Linked DNA regions of Homo sapiens. The protein of the gene in region 3 interacts with the protein of the main gene of each other region in a pairwise test. Each region holds a gene or a part of one and is shown on either strand. Other genes may lie near its edges.

Region 1 (7,043 bases), on a different chromosome or scaffold from region 3:
ATCTAAGTGAGATAGGTACGGTGTCTAAGCCAATGCCTAGCATGCAGATTATTTCAGTACATGTAACCCTCCCTTCAATTTACATGAATATGAGACATATTGCTAAAGATCAAGTACCAACTGGGTATGACTACAGAGAGCTTAACCTCCAAGAAAGCCAGAAGAAAAAACCAGCAAATGCTCAGTGGCTACTGGGCAGATATCAGCAATCTGCATGACCTAAAATGACTGCTCATTTGCTAACCAAACAGATACTCTGGCGATGCCACTGCTTGGCACTGCCATATCACCACTTCATCAGAAGCTAGGCACTCCCCCAAATTTCTATGATTATCTGTGTGGGTAATGAATGTGTGGATGGAATTTAAAAATCACTACATAGTATTTAAAATCAATTTGTCTAGTGGGGACTAAGCCTAACCAGAGATAGAAAGTACACATCTCATCATTTCCTCTTCTTGTGTGCCACCATCCAGTTTTTTTTGGTCCAGTCCCTTTTTCCCACAGAGCTTTGCCTTAGCCTCAGAATCCTTTCTGAACAATGCAGATATTAGAGCTGCCAAGACAAAAACAGTATTTGCCAACCCTCATACTACTTTTTCTACACTCACATTACCAAATATCTTTGGCATTTATGACAAATCTACCACAGGGAAGCTTCCTTGTATATAGGAACCGCATACGATCTTAAAAAGCATGACATAATAGCCATTGAGAGGTTGCTCCCTTCTTACCTACTCTGATACAAGAATTCTGTCATTCCAGCCGTCTTCCAAATATGCCACCTGAAAACCTACTTGGAAAGAAGCCAGTTATAAATAAATAAATCACATCATTTATCTTAGAGCAGAGGAGTTTACAGCTTTATTGGACACTGACTTGTTTCCCCTCAGCCACAAAGAGAAAAAGACCCAAACAAAAGTCCCTACATTTTCTTGTATAACTTAAAATACATTATATCATTACTACATATTTATACTTCAATAAATCTTAATCTATAAAGCACATTTTTTATAATTGTTATCAGAAAACCTATAAACAAGCTCCATTCTGCCTCACTTTTCCACCAGCTGGCCTTGCATTTATTACTATGCTTTTTAATAGGCTCATGCAAAATCTCACCTTCCATTTTTAAACTTGATCCAAGCACCAGATATAACCAAAATCTCTGAACTAGGAAATATTTGTATTCACATGGGTCATTTTCCACACAATGATGCCCATTATAAAAAAGCCTCCTCTCATATTCTATATTTTAACTTCCAGAGTTTTCCACTAAACAGTAGAACCACAGTACTTGGAATTCTCAGCCAAGGAGTATATAATCCTACTACTACAATGTATTACTTTAATACATTTTAAAAAATGTGTTAAGACTGAAAATTAAAAAAAAATTCAATTGTGATAGGTTAATAAACTAGTTAATTGTCTAGTTGTTTATTTTTTAAATAGAACAGTCCATTCAACTTAATATGTAGGTACAACCTCAATGCTATTAGAGATTGATTAGTTCTTTAAAAAGATTCACAAACTTCCAAATTGTGGTAAGAGTATCGTGGACTCACCTCTGAACACTGGAGAGCCAGCTAGCTCTTTTGAGCCGAGTCCTCCTCCCCCTCCAAATACAACACCCTGGTAAAAAAAACTACAGTTCTGGGAACCTCACAGGTGACCTCCCCTGAGGAATGCTCAGACAAGGGGAAGAGGCTAACTCACATAAAACAGCAAACCCCTATGATTTACAGTGGAAGAAATACCTACCTACTTATGGTAGGATTACAGTACCTAGCACAGTGCCTTGTCGGTAGAAAATGTTTAATAATAAATGCATGGCTGCTTTTTTAGCCTGACGTTCAACCCTTTTGTACCAAAGGAATAAAAAATAGGTAACCTGATACTTGCCCACCTGTCAGGGAATTTTCTGTCCTTAACAAAGATGAAGGCAAAATAATGATGAACTCTATCATCTTTTTCTAAAAGCCATGACAGACCATTACCCTTATGTTTACATTTGCCTTCAACACTGCCATCCGCTACAAATTTTTCCCTAGTGTTATAATTTCTACCTTCATTATTTTACAACTGTTTATTATTTAGACTGTATGCTTTTTAATAATATATGGGAAAACATTATTTTCATTAGTAAGATGACTCCAAATTATAGAGAGGATGAGTAGCTTTTGAATTTTCCTGCAGGCAAAATATAAATTCTTGATACATTTCAATTCTTAGATCAAAGTATTTGCATATCTTCCCCAATCAAGGTGTTCCATTCACTTTTTGATGTTTTATCACCATCACTTCTTATCTGAGATCTTATGGTTCATTTTGAGGCTCTTAGCCATCCTTTATCCTCTTATTTTCTCAAATGCATATTCAAATTAGGTAAAAGGAAATAAGGGTAAATTTTTAAAAGATGGTTTAAAATGGTTTTCAGACTTTGTAATTCCTGTTGCCTTTTAATATATAAGGGAATGTATCCATATAAAGAACATTTCAATGATCAATGCAGAAATAATGTATTTGTCTTAAAAAAGAAACTTTCAAGAAAGGGACAATGAATCAGGTAGTTCATTATTTGGAGAAGTAATACAGACTATAAACATCACATGGAAAATTTAGGCATTAAGACCTGAATTAAGTTTAAAATTTCAGTTTCTAGGCAGGTATGACACCATTTCTTTCAAGATAAATATCATAATGGTGAGTGAAGATTTTTACATTTCCCAGTGGATTTTCTGACAGTCAATAGGGAAAAAACTATTCTGCATCATTTCATATTTTAAATTTTGTCTTCATTTCTGAAGAAAAAGACCTGAGTGCTGATTCTTTTTTTTTTTTCAATTTCTTAAACTTTCACAACATTCAGAAGTTTTTCTGCATTGTGTCTTCTCTGATGTCTAAAAAGATTTGAGCTTTGACTATACGATTTCCCACACTGAACGCATTCATAAGGTTTCTCCCCAGTATGGATTCTCTGATGATTAATAAGCCCCGAATTCTGGCTAAAGGCTTTCCCACATTCAAGACATTTGTAAGGTTTTTCTCCAGTGTGGACTCTCTGGTGTTGCACAAGAATGGAACTTCGGCTGAATGCTTTCCCACACTCAACACATCCATAAGGTTTCTCCCCACTGTGAATTCTTTGATGAAGAATAAGGGCTGAGCCCTGACTGAAGTGTTTTCCACATTCATCACATATATGTTGTTTCTTTCGAGAGGGATTTCTCTTTCTTTCAAACCTGCCCTTGGGGAAACAGGTTTCTCCATATTTAAAAATTTGAGGAACACCCATATTGAGAGTGCCAGGAACTTCATGGGATTCTAATGCTGAAGGAAGCTCCTGCTTTGGAGCTAGTGCTCCATTTTCAGTCCTACCATCATCATCTGAAATAAACAGAAAATGTAAATATCATTCATTATCTATTAAGGGAAAAGAAACCTAAAAAAAATTTTTTTTTTAATGAACTAAAATAGCTAGCACACATCTATAAACCACTCTGACACTGGTGTTAAGGCCTATTCTCAAAAAAGAAAAAATGAAATTACTCTGAATAACAGTATAACATCATGATATAAGGGATATCTGAATAAAACATAGGCAAGTGGTTTACAAATGGTAGTCAGAAAACAAAGGTCAGAAAGATGGTAGATTCTAAGATGGTTAGGGAGATAGTCAAAATGATGTGGCTAGGTATGGATGAAACTTTGTAAGAATAAAAATAAAATAAAATTGGCCACTAGGAAATCATTATAATGTTCTTTTACTTTGAGAAAGGGAGAAATTACATCAAAATACAAAGATGTAAATTAGAAAAACATGTCAGAAAGTGGCTATTTCTGAAATGAACAAGCCAAGTCAGGTCACAGCCAATGTTAGCCTAAAAGCAGAACACAGGAGTCTTGACAAGAAGGGGCTGAAGATAAGCTGGGGGCCTCCTGTGTTAACCAAAGACATGACATAAAAATTCAGTATGCCCCTAATAAATGAAAGTTTTCCAATAAAAGCAGCTTCTCCCATGTGGTATTTGTCATGGTACTTAGAAAAATCGTTATTTCTAAGCCTCAGTGAAACGTGTCCAATGAAAGAAAAGCCTGAATTACCAACATGGGTTAGCATCACTCACACGCAGGCAGAGATAACAGCAAGTGTCATTTAAGACTTTTCTAAAACTTCATGCCTTAAGGAGTAAAGATCCAGTTCATATAGGGTTAGCAACTGCCTTCAGCGAAGAGGAAAACAGTAAATAATTAACAAAAAGATCAAGTCAGGAGATAAGGCTAAGAGAGAGAGACTGAAAGGTTAGAGGAGGATAGTGAGGCTTGGAGACTTGAAAAACAGAGGAGCGTGAAGATTAAGTGGAGACAAACGGCACACAGGAAACAGAAATTCCCAAGTGTGGAAGAGACTAGACAGCTGAAATAAGGAACGCAGGTGAAAAGTCACTCTAAAATTCAGATGATGAGAAGTTGAAAATATCAGCCCCATATATCAAGAATGATACTTCTCAAACTTTATTGCACAGAAGAATGTCCCATGAAACATGTAAAACTGCAGATTTTCAGCAGACTTCAGCCCCACCCCAAAAGTTGACTGGCTGGCACTGTCCCCTCAGATGTGAAGAAAACCTGCTCAGACCTCATTCAGTGGCATACCAGCACCATCTCCAACTACTTCAAGGAATGATTACTAAAGCAGAGTCAAACAAAATTTCATTTTAGTTCACATAAACATGAGAAAGCAATCTAGCAGTTTTAGGAATATACTGGGCCATATCAAAGGATACACATAAGTATATGGTGTTAATGGCTAATATATTGGGAAAGACTGGTCTCGTGAATTAATACAACTTTGAGCTTTTAAAAAAGATTTTTCTGCATTTAAAGCATGTTATAGCTAAGGAGGCTTTTTTTGCATAAATACTTAGAAAAAGGAAAAAAATTACTCCAAATATTTCTACAAAAGAAGCTTCTTAGAAGAAAATGACTCTAGGTAGACGTTGAAGGAAATCAGAAATAAATATTTAGAAAGATTTCAGTGATATACAACAAAGAGATTAGAAGAGGTTTTCAGGTAAGCTTACTGTACCAATGGAATTAGGCAGGAGATTGAAAGTAAAAGGATGTAAAACAGATGACAAGTAATACTGAATGCAAAATAGAGGGACTTGGTCCATGGGTGGGTGCTGGCTCAAAGTAAGGCAAATGCTAGCCTGACATGGGCAACTCTTTTTAGGAAGGAGACTGAAAGGGAAGAAAAGGCTGAAGATGTTAATGTCTAGGAATAAAAGGTCTGAGGCCAGCAAAATCAACTTAATCAGAAAAAAACTGAGATATTAGATTAAGAGTGATATGATCCCCCCACCAGTGAGAACAAGCAAAGTTCTGAACAAAAGGCCTATACTCTCTTTCACCCTCTAGCCCACACAGAGTTCTGGTCCTCACCACAGTGCCTTAGGGAATGGAGCTCCCAGGATGCCCACTTGAGCTGGTTCTCCACAGCATCAAGCTCAGAACTTGGTAATCCCTGAGCTTCTTCTTGAGATACCATGTCTTCTACTAGTACTTCCCGTTTTCGTCGACGGAGAGAAACCTGGAAACAGAAAGATTTGATTCAGAGAAGGAACTGTAATGAGAATCAGAACTAAAAACACGTAAGAGAAACCCCATGAAACAAATACTGCAGAAGCCTAGATGGCAAAGCGGCACAGATAACAAGGAGTGGTAGGGGAATGGGGGAAAAGGCATAAACATAATTCTAACTTAGTTGAGTGGAATTAATTCAGCAGCTTTGCCTACTACCTATGCCAGTGCTTCTGACACAGGAAATGACACAAGCAGGCTCACCGGTTGTCCAGGGTCATCAAGTTCACTCTCCAAATCCTCCAGCACTGTCACTGCCTCCTCTCCATTCTCTGGATGATGATCTCGAACCCAAGTCTGTAGCTCTTTGGGTAGGATGGCAACAAACTGCTCCAGCACTACCAGCTCCAAGATTTGTTCTTTTGTGTGCGTCTCTGGCCTGAGCCACAGACGGCAAAGTTCTCGGAGCTGGCTCACAGCCTCACGGGGCCCAGGTGAATCCTGGTATCCAAACTGCCTGAATCGCTGTCGGAAAATCTCTGGGTCTGGGAGATGGTTCCAGGGGATACTTGATCCCTCTTCGCCATCAGGATCCTCCTCCAACTTCACTCTCAGAATTTTTTCCTCTTCATCTGGAGTTGGGATGATAAGTATTGAATCTTCTTCCACTGACTGTGCAGACATTCTGATTTATAATATTTCAAGAAAAGACAACTGAGGCAGAATATAAGCCTCAGGGCAATACCCCGTTTTCTTCACAGGCACTCCTGAGGCATAAGAAATAAAAGATATATAAATAAGCAAAAATATCCTAAGAATTTGAACTTATACTGGTAAAAGTAAAAGATACTTGTTCTTTGAGTTAAAAATTCCAATCAATAACCTACACCAGGAATTGGCAAACTACAGCTTCACGGCCAAATCTAGCCTGCCACCCATTTCTGTACAACACTTGCACCAACAATAATTTTCACATTTTTAAATGGCTGTGGTCTTCATCACAGTGCCTTACGGAGCGGAGATCCCTAAAATCAAATGAATACCTAATGATATTTAGGGAATGGAGCTCCCCAAAATCAAATGAATACCTCATGACACGTGAAAATGATATGAAATTAACATGACTGTGTCCATAAATAATTGTACTTACTCATACTTCACGCTACAATAGCAGAGTTGAGTAGTTTCAACAGACTAGATGGCCTAAAAAAAACCCAACACAGTCATGCACTACAAAATGATGTTTGGGTCAATGAAGGACCACCTAGATGACAGTGCTCCCATAAGATTATAATGGAGCTGAAAAATTCAAGATTCACCTAGTGACACTGTAGCTGTTGTAAGGTCAATACATTACTCACATGTTTGTGGTGATGCTGGTGTAAACAAACCTGCTGTGTTGCCAGTTTAACACATACAGTTATGTATGGTACATAAAACTTGATAACAATAATAAACGA
Region 2 (7,256 bases), on a different chromosome or scaffold from region 3:
GGGCCCTTTCAAACTATTCTGCTGCTTCCAGGCTCCAAGCACAATGCTCCTCTTCCCACAAAGCCTCTTTTCCCCAGCATCTCTCTCCTGTGTTCACAGAGGCAGCCCCTCCTGGAGAAGCTATAATTCTAGGGTCCTTCTCCATTCTCTAAAACATCCCTCTTCTCATAAAAGGCAGGCCCAGTGATAAGCCCTTCACATGTGATCTCATTCATAACACCCCTCAGGGGTTGGAGGGGCTGTGAACACACTATTTGTTGATTAACCCCATTTTACACATTAAGGAAACCAGGCCCACAGAGGTGAAGTGACTTGCCAATATCTTTAAGCCAGATTTGAAACGAAGTCTGTCTTAGTCTAGAGTCTACGCTCCAAAGCACCTAATTCGCTTTCCTCTCAGAGATGACTCTCTGCCCAGACCACCAGGTCACTACTAACCCACTACCCTTTCTTGCTAGGCATTCCTGCCACGATCCCTCCTGCTCTAGACACACACACAGGCCCACTCCTTTCTTCACAAGTCTCTGCAATGGGAAGTCCTCTTTCCAGCACCTGGGTCCTCGATAATCTCTAGGCCACTGCCTACCCCAAATCCACACTCCTCCCTCCGGGAAATTCTCTTATGAACAAGTATCCAATTCCAACCCCAAATCCTGTCTCTTCTGTTACCTCATTTCTCTCCTTATCCCCTTAGCCCCAAGTCCCAGGGTGCCCTCTTTTCAGAAAAACTCCACAAACTCTTACGCCAGAATCCCTTCTACTTACTCCTTAACCTTTCCAGTCCCCCCATTTCCCAGTCCTACTAGAAAGCTGCCCTGAGGCCTGGTGCAGTGATTCACGCCTGTAATCCCAGCACTTCAGGAGGCCGAGGTGAGATCACCTGAACCCAGGAGTTCAAGACCACCCTGGGCAACATAGCGAGACCCCCCATCTGTATTTAAAAAAAAGAGAAAGAAAGCTGCTTTTTTCTTTTTTGAGACGGAGTTTCACTTTTGTTGCCCAGGCTGGAGTGCAATGGCGTAATCTCGGCTGACTGCAACCTCCCCCTCCCAAGTTCAAGCGATTCTCCTGCCTCAGCCTCCCGAGTAGCTGGGACTACAGGCGCACACCACCAGATCCGGTTAATATTTGTATTTTTAGTAGAGACAGGGTTTCACTATGCTGGCCAGACTGGTCTTGAACTCCTGACCTCGTGATCCGCCCGCCTCGGCCTCCCAAAGTGCTGGAATAACAGGCGTGAGCCACTGCACTCGGCCCGAAAGCTGCTTTTTTTCTAACTGAAGATTCACGCCGTCCCATATCAGGTTTTCCTCTCCTCAGACAACCGCAGGTCTACCCGAACCCATTCCCAGAGTCACAGCTCCTGGCTGATGAAGAGTTCCGTGCTGCTCCCCGAGGGCCCCCACTCCCTGGGTACACAAATAACTGCTTCTGGGAACCGTCGAGATTTCTCCTGGAGACGCTCAGGTCCAGAAACATTCCCCACACTCCACTCTGAGGCCTCCAGTGAAGTCAACAGGTTTCTTTCTCTTTGCTCCCTACGGCCTCCCCCCTCCCCATATTCGCTAAGCCAGATACGTACTCCTGTGCTGGACACAGGATCCTCTGTCTCCCGCCACATATTTCATCCACTTGGAATGTTACCAACTCATCTGCCCCCATCCCACCCCCAGCTACCCTCTGTTCTCCAAAAACCCCACAGTTAGCTCCAGACCAGTCAGCAGCAGCCTCAAGAGTTATTTGCCCTCAGTTTTCTTAGCTCTAGACCCCCAGATCCTTTGTCCAGGAAAGCATCCTCTCCCCCGCCAGCCTCTGGACACCAGGGCTCCCTATACCTCTTCTAGAAGCCAACCAGAAAGTCCCCAGATCTCCCAGCACCTAATGTCCAGGCTGTGCCTGCTTCAAGGGTGGCCTTCCAGCCCCGGAAGAGAGATGGGGGTGCCCCCTAGTTCAATCTCCCGCAGCCCCTAAATGCTCACTAGCCAAACTCCAAAGCACTGAGTCCATTAGGACCCTCCCCAGCCACAGACACCAGCGCCTCCACCTCTCCCACCCACCCCCGTACCCAAATAGGAGAACGCCCAGGATCGCATCCAGCGGCATATTCCAGGATCCTCCTTCCTCAGAACTCTCGCAGCCCCGCACACCTGGACATTCCTTCCCCACCCTGGAAACACGGCTCCCCACCCCCCAGCCCACACGCTGGGCTAGCACGACCGCCAAGCCCACGGAGCTCCGTACCCTAGGATCCCCATTTTCGAGACCCTCCCCAACCCAAACGGAAAACCTCTTGTTCTTCCGACTCTCTTCGGCTCCAGAAAGCAGTTTCCGGTCTCCGATCCCTACGGTACGGAATCCTCCCCGCCACCCCCGTCCCTCACCTCCGAAACCCAGAGGCCCCTCCCCCAGTGTCCCCCCTGCACTGAGTGTCAGGATCCACCCTCCGGTCGTGCTGGGGCCCTGGTCCCCAGATCCTTTTCGGCGGCGGGTAGCGGGATCCCCCGATCCTCAGGTCGTCTCCCCGACCTCAGGCGCTGGACTCCCGCGTCCCACAGCCCTTTCCTCGGCCCAGGCTCCGGGCTCCCCGGCCCCCGCCCCGCGCACTCTCACAATGTCCGTCCGGCCCCGAGTAGCCGCCGGGCTCCGCGTGCGGCTGCAGCCCGGGCGGCGGTGGCTGCGCGGTCCCCTCCAGCTCGGAGCCCCCCTCGGTCTCGACCTCCTCGTTGATGTGCCCGGGTCGCCCCGGTTCGTCGTCGGCGTCGAGCTCCCGCTCGTCGTCAGGCTCCTCGGCCTCCAACGCCGCCTGCAGCCGCTCAGCAAGCTCGGCCTTGAGGCCTCGAGTGTCCAGGCCGCGGCGCTGCAGCTCCTCGCGAAGTTCGTTCACCTTCAGACGGCGCACATCCATGGCCCGGGCCCCCGGGGTGGCCCCCGAGCCCGGCCCGGCCTCCCAGGGCTCTGTCCCCCTTAAACCTTTCCTGTCAGGAGGCGAAGGGGGAAAGGGGGGGGGCCCACTCCAATGGCGGCAGCGGCTCAAAATGGCCGCCGCCACCGCCTCCCCCCTCACTCGTGCCTCGTCCGATGTTACATGAGTGCCAATTGGTCAGTGCGTGGGGCAACGGGCGCGGGCCCGGAAACCTAGCCAATCAGAGCGCCGTTTTCAAAACAACGGCCACGAGAAGGCCTAGGAGCTACTGGGGAGGAAGCGTTGGCCTACGTCGAAGCCGAGGCCGGAGCGGAGGGCGGGAAAAGGCAGGAGGCGGAGCGCTTGCTGATTGGGTAACTCTCGCGCGCCGGCTGCCGTAAGGTCCAATGAAAATAAGGGAGTAACAATTTGGTCCAATCAACGGTAAGATCTCAGAATGAGTGTCCCACGGCCTTTCCTGCGCAGTCCTTTCATCAAACTAAGTGTCTCTGTAACACACATTCCGATTGGTGTACATCTCCCGCCCCTTGAGGAGTCCGAGCGGGTAAAACCACTAGAACCAATCAAATGGAGGGTCGGCAGAAACCCCTCCTTCCTGTTGCCTTTAAGAAACCGGAAAGAGATGAATTCACCAGGAGCCCGCCCCTTGCCGTTAGGGCGGTTTCAAAACAATCTGCCCACCAATCGCAGTTATTGTCTTAGCTCACTAAAGCTGGTAGCGATGGCTCATTTTAGGAAAAGTTCACCAGATTGGCCGTGCTTCAGAGGACTGCCTCACAAATTTCGCTGTAGGAGGAGGTATACGAAATAGAGATTAAGTGGATACACAGTTCGTAATCTGGAAGGAACCCAGTTGCCTTTAGGAAAAGCAAAATTTTGAGTTGAGAGAGTCCCGAAGGTTTGGCTATAGAAACTAGACTAACAACGGGAGGCAAGTTGTAAAGGACACGGCCTCCCCTTCCCTTGGGTAGTCCGCGGCCGCCTTGCTCTATGGTCGGGTACCTGACGTGGAACGGGCGCTCTGCACGCGACCATAGAGCCTTCCCCTCCCGAAAGACATCCAGAAGTTCACCGACCGCTCTCCCGAATCCTCTAATCGGCTGTTCCCGTAAATCGGGCTGTCTGGCGTCTGTACCGACAAGCTCAACCCCACGGATCCGTCATTAACCTTCGCGCTCAGGAATACAAAAGCCACAGAGCTTCCCAGTGTCTAACGCTGCACCACCTGTCGCCTCTAACTCAAAACAAAACTCGAGTAAGACGCAATCGGGATACATGATGCAGACTCCCACTGCCTCCTGAGCCACACGTTAAGCCCGCAAAAGCCACACACTATCTCTACTCAGACAAAGGCACACCCCGCAGTCGTAAACAAACAGGCGTGCGTCAGATCAGACGCATCCAGTTCTTTTTTTTGTTGTTCTTTTTTTTTTTTTTTTTTTTTTGAGACGGAGTCTCGCTCTTGTTACCCTGGCTGGAGTGCAGGGCCTCTATCTCAGCTCACCGCAACCTCCGCCTCCCGTGTTCAAGCGATTCTCCTGCCTCAGCCTTCCGAGTAGCTGGGATTACAGGTCCCCGCCACCATGCCCGACTAATTTTTGTATTTTTAGTAGAGACGGGGTTTCACCATGTTGGCCAGGCTGGTCTCGAACTCCTGACCTCAAGTGATCCGCCCGCCTCGGCCTCCCAAAGTGCTGGGATTACAGGCGTGAGCCACCGCGCCCGGCCCCAATTCCGATCTGCTTTGGGTAAGGCACCCCGCTGCAGTGTAGATGTGCCCACTACGGTCCGCAGAGGCAGGCGGCATCGAATAATAAAGATAACACAGGATAGTTGCACTACAAGCGAACACTACAGCAACCCAAACACACAGCACCCACTCAGCAGCGGGACAGACACTCACGTGGGCCCAGAGGTTCCAGTCCAGACACCCCGCCCCTCGCCCACGTCCGACTTCCTCTCTCTCTCTCTCCTCCCAGCTTCCCACAATGATTTGTTCTAAAAAAGTTTGTGGCCCGGATTGAACTGTCCCCGGTTCTCAGGAGCCGCCACTGGAGGGCGTCCGGGCGCTGCCAAGGGTTTCTCCATTTGCTGCCGGCCACACCCGCGAACGCCCGCTCGCGAGTGCGTGCCAGACACGGTGGGCTGGTCTTCGCTGGAGGCCCTTTGTGGGTCCGTGATGATCGGAGGTGTTCTGTGCCTGTGTTTCTATGTCAGTCTGAACGTTCGGGGTTGTGAGTACCTGTTGTACTCTACATGTCTCTTGAGTATTTGTGTCACTTGACTCTAGGTCTGTGTCTCTTCCTATTCGTGGCGGGTATCTGCCTGAGCATGTTTGTAAATATGCTTGTGTCTGTGTAATTCTGTGTGTCTGTGTTACTCTATGCGTCTGAGTTTCAGTCTCTGTATTTGTGACCAGGTCCTCCTGGGTGTGTCCATTAATTCATGTGTCTGTTAGTTTGCGGCGGAACAGGTGTGTGTGTGTGTGTGTGTGTCTGTGATCCTGGATCTGTATGCCAGTTCCTCACTGGGGGTTTCTGAGAACCTGCATCTCTTTGCTTGTATGTCTTTTTGTCTATCTGTGTGTTCATTTCTACCCTCTCTAGTGAGGACAGAATTCCAAGACCCTACCAAGCCCTTCTTTTTTCTGATGGGGGAACTGAATTGCCAGGGAATGGGGCCACATCACAGCTAAAAGGAGACAAGAGGAGACAGAAGCTCGTTGATATACAAAGTTTTATGTGACCTGAGCCCCTCTGGAGGCACCAGAGTCCACACTCTGTACTCAGAAGGTGAGGGATTGGCTCACGGGGGCAACATGGCCCGAAAGGTGGGAGATCGTCCATCCCCTGCGGGAAAGGAGGCATCCCTAATGCATTGCACAGGCTTGAAGGGGGCACACCCCCACAGTTGGGGAGGAGGAAGCAATGATAGCTAAGAAGGAGAGGGGCACCCCAAAGAATACTACAGTATAGGGTTAGAACCTTGAAATTGCACCTAATAGTCTAGACCTGTGGACCTTTAGAATCTTAGAAACTTAGAACATTTGAGTCTTAGAACTACAGTGCCTAGAACTATAAGATTTTAGAAATGTGGATTCTTGGACTCTTAACCATGGTCCTAGAGAGGCAGAATGCAGCAAAGAACCTAAAGGTGTCCAACATTAGAAATTATTAGAACTTTGGTGTCTAGTTAGTCACAACTGAGTGTGAGAGTCTTATAACTTAGATGCTTAGGATCCGGAATCTTGGACCAATGGAATCTAGAGTGCCTTGAAACAGAACAGACCGTTAGAATCTTATTTAATCATCTAGAATCTTGGAGCATCTGATCTAGAATCTTAGACACAGAGAATCTAAGATCTTAGAGTAAGTCTTAGAATATCACATCTTAGAACACCGGACCTTAGAAACTCCATCTTTAGACTCTTGGAACTTTTGAATTGCAGATTCTAGAGCTTTCGACCCTTAGGATCTAGGATCTTATACAAGAGAATCTATTATCATAAAGCCTCAGAAACTATAATTGATCATCATTAGAATCTTAGAACTTGAGAAGATAACATTTTGAAGCCTTATGATCTAGAGCCTTACAGCCAGAGAATCTAGACTCTCAGAGCCTTAGAACATCACATTTTAGAATCCTAGGCCTTAGAACCTCCATGTCTAGAACTATAGAATCTTTAGAATCTATAATCTTACATTTTAAGGACTCTGAACTCTAGAAGAATAAACATCTAGACTCATAGAGCCTTAGCTCCTAAAATCAGAATCTTAGAACTTTAGAACCTAAAACCTTGAGGCTTTATCAAAAATGTTAGAACCAGAAAATCTAAAACCACATAATGTCAGAGCTTTAGAACAGTAGGTCTTAAGGTTGAGTGCAGTGGCTCATGCCTGTAATCTCAGCACTTTGGGAGGCTGAGGTGGGCAGATCACTTGAGGTCAGGAGTTTTAGACCAGCCTGGCCAACATGGTGAAACCCTGTCTCTACTAAAAATATAAAAATTAGCCGGGTGTGGTGGCACACACCTGTAATCCCAGCTACTTGGGAGGCCAAGGCAGGAAAATCACTTGAACTCGGTAGGTGAAGGTTGCAGTGAGGCGAGATTGCACCACTGCACTCCAGCCTGGGTGACACAGTGAGACTCTATCGCAAAAAAAAAAAAAAAAAAAAAAAAAAAAAAAGTAGGCCTTAGAACCTTAGCACTTTAATAGAATTAGAGACTTTGGAATTTCAGGTCCTTAGAACCAAAGACTCACAGCATCTTTGAAACCTAGAACCTTTGAATCTAGACTCTTTAAACCTTGGACTCTAGAGTCTTGGAATGTTA
Region 3 (4,662 bases):
ATGCATAGAGTGACAACTGCCTCTGCTAGGCTACATCTGAGAGACTGACATAAATCTTTTTGCTCCTTAGTGCATTAGACCATGGTTGATGCAACAGGGGACATGTCCAACGTGCAGACTCCACGTTTTGCTACCAGAAGAATTCCCTGGTCACCCCAGCCGGCAGTTGCCCAAGATCTGATACAAGGTCGGGGTGTCTATGCAAAGGAAGCTCAGTTTTCTTTTATTATGAGCTGCTTGTTTGAGTGGTGTAAAACTATGTGCTCTTCAATATAGTGCTAAAGAAGCCAGCTAATTTTATCAAAGCAGCAGCCAAAGAAGTCAGGACAAATCTTCAGGACTTGTGAAATGAACTGAAAGAGCTTGAAGCAGATGGAATTTTAATAGTTACACTATATATGCTCTTAGTAGGTTTTTTTCTTGTAGTGGAAACATAACTGTTAGCATATTTCTTAGGATGTTTTTTCTTGTCTTTTTAAATTCTTATTTCACTCATCCTTTACTCTCCCCTCAAGTATTCTACACTTTAATTTCCTGAAATAAATTTAAGGAAAAGGGAAATAGTAAAGAAGTAGGAATGGGTGCAGCACACCAGCATGGCACATGAATACACATGTAACTAACCTGCACATTGTGCACATGTACCCTAAAACTTAAAGTATAATAATAATAAAAGAAAAAAAAAAGAAAGTAAAAAAAAAAAAAGAAGTGGATATTCACGGAGAGCTATGAGGGGATAAAAGGGTATGATCTAATGGTAAGAAACTGGAAGAAACATAGCAAGTCATTTGTTCAGATTCTTCTCTGTGTCCCTGTGTCTCCAGAGATAAGGATGTCCTTTTCCTCCAGGTATACAGTGGGTACCTCTAGAATGAGGGTCTTATGACCTGCTTCCAGGGAAGGTCAGAGAATCCTTCCTAGGTTTTATGACTTGTTTCTGGGAAGAAGTGCAGGAGGAAAGTGAGTGAGACTTCCCTGCTTCTGCTGTTTTCTCAAACATCAAGATGCCATATTTTGGAGTAGCATGTCTTAAATCTCATCACCCGTCTCAGGTGCAGTTTCATGGCCATGAAGAAGACAGAAAGACCACTCATACCTGCATAAGTATTATCACAAACTTTCTTATCTTCTGTTTGTTCTCCTGAAAACCCATTTGTCTTTCCTAAACGAACCAATTTGTCCTTCCCATAGATGTCTTTCTCCCCCATTCCTTTCCCCTACTAAGTTAGGTATATAAGCCCCAAATTCTAACCACACTTTTCAGTTACTCTTCACGGAACACTCCCACATGTGCGAACATTGTCCGCATAAATAAGCTCTTTTCTCTTACTAATGTCTTTTTTTCAGTTTAATTTGCAGGCTCCTATTGAAATAACAAAAGTTGGTAGAGGAAAAAGTTTTTTCTCCCCTACAAAGGCCAAGAACATTTTGGCTTTATATTTATATTTATATTATAATGTGAATTGATTATAATTATAATGTGAATTGATAGAAATATATATATTTTTTTTCTGCCCCTGCTTGGCACATGACAGAACATGGGCATAGACAGACTGGCTATTGGTAATCCAGTCCTGGGAGATGATCAGGAGGCAGTACTCAATCCTACTTTCTTCTCTACAGCTTCCCATGGGCTAAAGAATTTACATGTCTGCCCACAGCAAATGTACTCAGGCTTCTACACTAACATAAGCCCACGGAAATGAAACAGAAAGGGACAGTTCATATGTTTCTGAATAGATCCAGTTGAATAGTCTCATTCAATTTGAGACTGTTGAACAACTGTTGTTGTTCTACATACATTTAAAGTCAGGGCACATGCGTCACTGCTTATTTTTCTTACTTGACATATTCCCTGCATTTCCATGTCTGCCTGTCCTTTAGATAAACAGTAAAAGTTTCCCATGTGCCAGTATTTCTCAAATGGTTTACATCAGAATCACCTGGAGGACTTTTAAGCTAGATTGTTTGGTCCCATCCCAGGGATTCTGAATCAACAGGTTTGCGATGGGTCCAGATAGTTTACTTTTCCAAGTTTACTAACAAGTTTGCCAAGTTCCCCCAGTTTATTACCATTAGACCATACCTTTTTGTCCAATCATTTAAAACAAATTTTTATATAATAAGTTTTATTTGTATGTAATAAATTTTATTATATAAAAATAAGTTTTAATATATATTATATAAAAAGTTTTAATAAATACCTAATATATTATTTAATATGATAAAACTTATATTAAATGAAATTTTATGCTGTTCTCTTGTCAATCTGTCTTTTGTTATCTTGCTGGTGTGCCTGTCATGTGAGGGACTGCAATCTGATATGCCTGTTTTCCACAGTCAAAGCAATTACAAGAGAATTGTTACAATTACCCAGTTATGTCAAGAGATTTTTTTTTAATTCACTAAGGTAGAGATAAGGAGAATGTATTAAAATAGGATATTTTAATTATAAATGCATGACTGGGGAGGGGGTATTGTTTTTGAATAAAATATGAGGTTATTTGCCATGACAAAAAAAAAAAGAAGTAGGAAAATCCCATGGAAATTTATGTTCCTTCTAACTTTTAAAACTACCTAAAAAATATAATTGATTTAAATTATATCTCAATATTCCCCATTCTTTTATATCCCCTTAAATAGGTACCCATGAAGAGATTATGAACTACTTGAAGGTGGAGACTGTACGGTGGTGTGTTGGAGCTGGCTTGTAATGTCTTATGAGTGACAATCGTTAGTTTGAGGAATTTTGTGAGACAGTTGTCAAATTGTTGCTAGCTTGAAATCTGCGGCAATTGGAGTATTTACACCATAGAAATGCTATAAGTGAAGACCTACCTTTCCCTTAAGAGCTAGTTGTTAAACCTTTACCAGCATACCACTGGACCTTGTCTAAAATTTCTTTGTGTTCCCAGTGTCTTGCCCAGTAGATACAAGATAAATATTGCCAGAATCAGATATCAGGAAGTAGTAAGAAAAGGAGTTAATATGCAAACTAAATCACTCGCTCAATTGAATAATTGAGATCTTCTGTTCATTTGTTCCTTGGACCTTAATCATTTGCATTTTGGAGAAAATTTTTTCTGCTTTAAAAGTCTGTAATTTCAGTTTTTGTGTCGGGGAGAGGGAAAAACTATTTGTCTGTAGTTGCTTTTTGTGACAAAGTGAATACCCACTGGGCTAAGTTTCATATCTAAAGCTTGTCACTAAGAATTTTCATTTTTAGGGGTCAAAAACCTATTTTGAAAATAGTGTTGTGTGAATGCTGTAAGTGTTGTACATGTCTCTGGTTTCAGAATTAAAAGAATTCAGAGTTACCTTGTGAGATAAATGTTCTTTGCTTCATATTCACAGTTTCACCTCCATTTAAATTTATGGGGAAGAATAAATGTTTCCTGACTCAGAAACAATTTTGCCTCCATATTTCAGTGCAAATATATTTTGAAGTTACTTTTAAATATTTATTTAAAACCTCTGTTTCTGTAACTGTATGTTAAACGTATTCTTCTGTAATGAGAATAGACTGGAACATGTGAGGGAAAAATATTTAAAAAAAGATGGCAGTCATCTAGACATGTAAAATGCCAAGAATGTCTTAGAATTGCACAATTTAGAATTTATAGAGCCTTTAATCACCTTGTCTAGCACCTTGTATTAGTCCATTTTCATGCTGCTGATAAAGACATACCTGAGATTGGGCAATTTACAAAAGAAAGAGGTTTAACGGACTTACAGTTCCACATGACTAAGGAGGCCTCACAATCATGGTGGAAGGCAAAGAGGAGCAAGTCACATCTTACATGGATGGCAGCAGACAAGGAGAGAGAGCTTGTGCAGGGAAACTCCCATTTTTAAAACCATCAGATCTCATGAGGCTTACTATCACGAGAACAGCATGGGAAAGACCTGCCCCCGTGATTAAATTATTTCCCACCAGGCCCCTCCCACAACATGGAATAATGGGAGATACAAGATATTTGGGTGGAGACACAGAGCCAAACCATATCACACCTTAAGGTCATGGTCATATAGCTAGTTATCTTGTAAAACCAATGTTTCTTAGTTCATACTTACAACTGCAATTTCACTTTCATTTAGAAAAGAATAAATGTTTCTTAATTGAACAACTATTTTATCTGTGTATTTCATTATAAGCATATTCTGAAACTACTTGAAATCTTTACTTCAAATGTATCTTTCTGTTTAATTGGGCTTAAACTTTTTCTACTGTTTTGAGAAACGTTAGGAAAATGGGAAGGAAAATATCCAAGAAGACAGTTATATAGACTTATAAAATGCCACGATTGTTTTAAAATAACAGAATGCCAAAGTTCATTGGGTCCTTAGTGACATATAATACATTTTCTTATTTTACAGGTATGTTGTACCCAATGTCACATGGCCAGATAGTGGCTAGGCCAGTCTCAGTACTTGAGGGTCTCTGATGCCTCATCACATGCTTTCTCCACAAACTCATGTTGTAATAGGGTATTGGTGTTGACTTGCCATGCTTAGCTCCAAGGATGGGGCCAGAGAACTTAATACAATAGTTGGTATATAGGGAGAATGTAATAGGACAGTGCTCCAGGAAGTTATATTTAATTCTTTAGGTGCTGAAGGTAATGGGATTATAGTTTTTGATGTATACTTTAACAGTAAAGA

What was found.
Region 1: the proteins of DZIP3 (region 3) and ZNF24 interact in binary tests that used the Homo sapiens proteins (3 or more experiments, as listed by UniProt).
Region 2: the proteins of DZIP3 (region 3) and HNRNPUL1 interact in binary tests that used the Homo sapiens proteins (3 or more experiments, as listed by UniProt).

What each region holds. Positions count from the first base shown.
Region 1 is NC_000018.10:35,334,384-35,341,426, forward strand, and holds part of ZNF24 (zinc finger protein 24), read right to left. Parts: intron 6,351-7,043; 5' UTR 6,268-6,350; coding exon 5,848-6,267; intron 5,594-5,847; coding exon 5,446-5,593; intron 4,691-5,445; coding exon of another isoform or gene 4,677-4,690; exon of another isoform or gene 3,388-4,676; coding exon 2,849-3,387; 3' UTR 1-2,848. UniProt on the Homo sapiens protein: Transcription factor required for myelination of differentiated oligodendrocytes. Required for the conversion of oligodendrocytes from the premyelinating to the myelinating state.
Region 2 is NC_000019.10:41,260,153-41,267,408, reverse strand, and holds the start of HNRNPUL1 (heterogeneous nuclear ribonucleoprotein U-like protein 1), read right to left. Parts: upstream 3,038-7,256; 5' UTR 2,906-3,037; coding exon 2,611-2,905; intron 2,545-2,610; exon of another isoform or gene 2,527-2,544; intron 2,329-2,526; exon of another isoform or gene 2,094-2,328; coding exon of another isoform or gene 2,066-2,093; intron 1-2,065.
Region 3 is NC_000003.12:108,690,717-108,695,378, forward strand, and holds the end of DZIP3 (E3 ubiquitin-protein ligase DZIP3), read left to right. Parts: intron 1-70; coding exon 71-181; 3' UTR 182-187; intron 188-2,643; 3' UTR 2,644-4,124; downstream 4,125-4,662. UniProt on the Homo sapiens protein: E3 Ubiquitin ligase proteins mediate ubiquitination and subsequent proteasomal degradation of target proteins.